Regions from separate parts of the Homo sapiens genome. Here region 2 is linked to region 1. Evidence: fine-mapped expression QTL. Tissue or cell type: whole blood. Region 1 holds a variant in brackets; the other region holds the start of a gene. All regions are shown on one strand. Distances are between the middles of the regions.

The links. PIP is the estimated chance that this variant, and not a neighbour inherited with it, causes the effect.
Region 2: it holds the start of TMTC1, and the variant in region 1 is fine-mapped to the expression of TMTC1 in whole blood (INTERVAL, PIP 0.97).

Annotation. Positions count from the first base shown.
Region 1 is chr12:29,683,602-29,686,224 of GRCh38, reverse strand. The region is part of intron 5 of TMTC1 (transmembrane O-mannosyltransferase targeting cadherins 1); the gene reads left to right. Among named protein-coding and RNA genes, the nearest start is that of TMTC1, 99 kb to the left of the region's middle. The variant G/A (reference allele first, on the strand shown) is at 1,553.
Region 2 is chr12:29,782,494-29,784,993 of GRCh38, reverse strand. It overlaps TMTC1 (transmembrane O-mannosyltransferase targeting cadherins 1), which reads left to right and starts at 1,052. Exons shown (of 18, transcript NM_001193451.2): 1 at 1,052-1,544. The coding sequence starts at 1,243.

The DNA.
Region 1 (2,623 bases):
GATTGGAGAGAGGTTGAAGGGAAATCAGAGGTGAAGATGTTCAAAGAATCCAGGAGAGTAGAGATTGATGAACAATGTCACATGTAGTCAGATGTCTAGTAAGACCGAATGTGTATTAGGATACTGGATTGGTTGGTGATCTTAGTGAAAGTTTTAGTTCAGTGACTTGAGCAGGTGCTGAATTGGGTTCAGTAGAAATTTAAAAACTGTTGAGTGTGGGAATGGATAATGATGGAGCTTTCAACATCAAGAAAAGTGGCTTTTCCAGGCTCACCTTTTTTTTTTTTTTTTTTTAACAATCTTGCTATAATATAGTCTACAGTTTTAAACCATAGTAAGCATGAGCTAAAGAGTAGTTTGTTTACTTTCTATAAGTGCATTAGCCTATTTTGCTTTTAAATTAGGGAATCTATCTTACAAAATTTGAATTTGATTTATTTTAATCTTGGTATTGAGGCTCTTGGTCAGTTTTGTCAGAATAAATAGCAAATTACATAAAAACAATTTTCAGTAAGTAATTGTACTCATTGAACAGGCTTTTCAATATTACTTGCTGTATTGCAAACCAGGCCTCTTTTTTTTCTGGTTGAAAGTTATGTTTTTTTAATAGAAAATAATGCCTCTTAACAGAGTAATTTGCTTTTTTTAAATTCAGTGGTCAGGTTTGTGAAATTTGTTTTAGAACCATAGGTATATAGAATGAGATATTGTGCCTTTATGTTTTGTCTTTTTAAGCTAAGGTTAATTTTGGTAGCAAAGCAAAACTCAATCTTTTAAGCACTACAATTTTTAATGTATTGTACTTAGTATCAGTTTGTTGGCTATTCTCTGCTTTCCTGGAAAGTTTTTTTTTTTTTATTTTGGAAATAATTTTGGTAACAAAGGATAGTATGCCATTCCATTTGAACAAAGAAAAATGTGAAAATTATGTAAAAATAAATAGGATAGGTTTGAATTCTTACGTGTAGACTGTTTTGTACTGTGCCTGGGAATTTTTTTTTAATCTTTGTGGCAATAATATAGCTCTGGTTAATTTATTTTGCTGCTGCTGAATGATAGTACTTGATATCTAGTTAGGAAAATATTTCCTTAGAGTTGAAATAAATCATTTACAATGTCGGTAAATGCGATTTAGCTGTAAAAATAAAAATGTGTATTGGAAAGATAGGATCTTATCATCCTATGCCCAATTAATCTTTTTAAAAAGTAGTTTCTTAGGTTGGCAATAGAATGCACACTGTTTGAAATAGAAAGGGAAAAAAGGTTTGTAGAATTTTATTAAAAACAACATACCACGTCTGAACAGCAAGAAAACTATGTTTTCAACTTAACTATTGAGTTGGAAAAAATTCTTTGTGTTCACAATAACCAGTCATTTGCAGTTAACAGTGTTAGAAAATAATAATTACAGCCAACTGTGTGTGTGTGTGGCCGGAGAGGGGGAGATCCCATGCCTTATGCTAAGTGTTTTCACTGTATTTTCTTATTTAATCCTCATTACAGCTACAGCTCATAGTAGCACAGTCAATATTTACATCCAGTTCTGAGTCTA[G/A]AGAGAGATCTTATACAGAATTACACACCAATGATCAGTGTATTTTCTGAAGAGTGGGAAATAGTGTCAAAAATAGAAATAAAAAGAAATAAAAAGCTCCTGATGACCCTAGTTCTGGTATTTCTTAACATTAGGAAATGAATCAGATATGAATTTGTTTAGAGGAACTTATTACTGTACTAATTTAGGATTAAAAATAAAGAGAAAGCCCTCTTTTTTGCTGTTGTTAAAATTGTCAACTTCAAATGTGATGTATATAGTCAAATGAGATAAACTAAATATATTTCCTCTATGAGAAAATTTTTCTGAAATTATTTACTGTTAGTTTTGCTCAAGCTGTTAGGAGCTCAAAGACATTTGAGGTTCAAATATTCTCTTTAGCCTTCTTTTTCTCTTGTCATTATCAATAAAACTGCTCTGGAAATTCCAGGTTTTAACTGGAGAAAAAGCAAAAATGGAAAATTAATTTTTTTTAACCTCCTGTTCCACCAACACTGGTTTAGTTTTTCCTATTCGAAGTGATAGGAAGGGTTGGACGCAGGGGCTCATGCCTGTAATCGCAGCACTTTGGTCAGCCAAGGCAGGCGGATTGCTTGAACTCAGGAGTTTGAGGCCAGCCTGGCCAAAATGGCGAAACCCTGTCTCTATGAAAATATAAAACATTAGCTGGGCATGGTGGCACACGCCTATAGTCCCAGCTACTTGGAAAGCTAAGATGGGAGGATTGCTTGAGCCTGGGAGACGGAGGTTGCAGTGAGCCGAGATCATACCACTGTACTCCATGGCTAGGTGACAGAGGGAGAACCTGTCTCAAAAAAAAAAAAAAATGATAGGAAATAGACTATCTTTACTAATTTTAGTTTAGGTATAAGCTTGCTTGTTAGTGCAGACATTTCAACTTCTGAATAATTAGGAGAGTCTATTTGCAAGCTTTGCTTCTTTCAGGTATGCTACATTCTTTTTATTTCTCTTCTTGTATGGGATTTTCTGCTTTTTGTGAACTTTTGAATTGTCTAAAAGAGAAAATTATACAGTCGCATTTAGCAGCGCTTTTCAGAACTGCTGTGGCAA
Region 2 (2,500 bases), 99 kb before region 1:
TAGAATTTTCAGACCTGGAGAAATTCTAGTAATCATCACTCTGGGACATATTATTAAAATTAGTATTTTAAAAAAGAAAACAATCTTTCAGAAAGACAGGAAGTTTAGGAGCCAAAGCCAGAGGCCCTAATACAAATCGCCCCCACCTCCCCATCCCCCCATCCCCACCTTCTTCCCCGCCCTGTTCAAACACGCCCACAGCCCAGGAAATAATGAGACCCAAGTGATCCAGCTAGATAGAAAAAGTAGTTTGCTTGGCATCTCCCAAATTATCTTGAGCAAACAATAAAATAAGAAATGTTTCAGAAGACAATTCGGCTCCCAGGCCCAAACCAAAACTCGAACCTGGTACTTTTTGTAAGTGCGGGCCAAGAAAGGGGCTGTAAAGTTAAAGAGCCGGTGGCGCCTCTGAACACACCCGGGCAGGGCGAGCAGGATGTCCTTGTCCAGGGAGACCCCTTCTCCTGGCTTTGAGGAAGGTGCTCCCTATCCCCGCGGGTTCCTCCGCCAAGCGGGACGCCGCGCCGGGCGGGTGAGAGAAAGCCCGGGCAGGAGAGCACAGAGCCGGCGACTGGACGCGAGCGCGGGGCGGGTGGAGAGCGTCTCTCCGGGCGCCGCTGCTGTTGTCCCGGGTGCTGAAAAGCCGGGAACTTCCCGGGAAGCAGCGGCACTTTTCTCCCTGGAAGGTGGGTGTGGGGGTTCCAGACTGCGCACCTGCTAAACCCTCCTGGGTCCCCCGGGAGGGGTCCGCCAGATGTGCCCCTTCCCAGCCCCATTCGGGGGAGAAGGATGGGGGCGGGGGCGTGGGGGTGAGCACAGCCGGACACCGCAAGTGGGAACCTGGGGTGTCCTTCCCCGCAGCTCCCGGGCAGCCGCGCGCCGCGAACCCCGGTCCACCTGCAAGCAAGGCGGGCCGGGGGCAGAGGGCGCCGGGCTGTGCGGGGGAACCGGCCCGCGTCCCGGGATTGGGGGGCGGTGGAAGAGAGAGCGAGCGGGCATGCGCAGTGGGGCGGAGGAGGTGGCGATGGCCGGGGGAGGCGGGGGGACTGCTGTTTATTTGCAGCTGGGCCAACTCCGCGGCGCAGGCGGCGGCGGAGCGCGGGGAGCTCGCGGCGGGTCCAGCTGCCGCAGCACCATGCCCGAGCCCCCCTCCGGGCAGACGCCGCGCGCCGCCGGGGCCCCGGTAGGGGAGGATGCCAGACGCCCGGGAGAGGCCAGGGCAGCAGCGGCGGCGGCGGCGCGATGGTGGTGACCACCTCTGCCCGAGGCGGCGGCGGGGACCGCACACCCTCCCGGCGGCGGGGCTGCGGGCTAGCGCCGGCCGGGGCCGCGGCGCTGCTGGCCGGGGCAAGCTGCCTGTGCTACGGCCGCTCCCTGCAGGGCGAGTTCGTGCACGACGACGTGTGGGCGATCGTGAACAACCCCGACGTGCGGCCCGGCGCCCCGCTCCGCTGGGGCATCTTCACCAACGACTTCTGGGGCAAGGGCATGGCCGAGAACACCAGCCACAAGTCCTACCGGCCGCTCTGCGTCCTCACCTTCAAGTGAGTCCCTCACCTCGCGCTAGCCGCCGCTGCCTCCTCTACCCTCCGCCCGTCCCTCGGACCGGGAGAAGTTGCGGGACTGACTTGGGGGCATTTCATTTTTGCCGCCCTTTCCCTCCACGCCTCCCTCCTCTCCAGGATGTGCATGGCACTTTGCTCCGGGATCCACTGCCCGGCTAATCTGGGCTCTCGGGGCGGTTCGGGAGGCGCCGGCTGGGGAGTTGGGATCGAGTTTCTCAACTGTCTGCCCTCTCAGCGGGCTTCTCTCTCGAGGCAGGGCTGGGAGCGGGCTGGTGAAACCGCCTCCGCACCCCTTCGCCTGCCGGATCGTGACCAAGTGGGACTAGCGCGGACCCAGAGGGTTCCGGAGGGGTGGCGGTGGTGGCGATGCTTCCAAGTAGAGAATTTCTCGGAGGCTGTTGGGCAGCTTTGCAGATGAGAAGTGTATCAGCCCCTTAAGGGTTTCGTTCAGATGAGACGAGGCGGGAGCCTTGAGCTGACAGGGCTGCGTGGGTTCAGGAGAGGGAGCAGAAAACTCTCCCGAGCCCCCCAGCCCCCGCCTTGCACCCTTGGCTGCTCCCAGAGGCTCTCCAATCTGCCAGACTTCTCTGGATCTAGACTTTAGAAGGTGCAGAGAGAGGTAACGCAGAGCCTAGGCTTCTCCAGGGACCCTGGGGCCCCAGCCGAAATAGTTTTTCTTTTACAACCTCGGAGTCATGATTCAGCGTTTCTGGTGTGAATAAGCGTAAAGGGAACCGAGAATATGCCAGGTTTTTGAGGGGTGGAGTATTTTCTTTAATTTGAAAAGAAGCCTAGCTTCTGAGGAAAGAAGAGAAGTGCTCATTTAAGGGAAATGCTATCTTACACAATCAGGAGCTTGACTCAACCCTTTATAATGTGGCTCAGCATTGAAGTTCATTTTAACGCGCCGGTCAAAACTGTTGAAATAATATTGG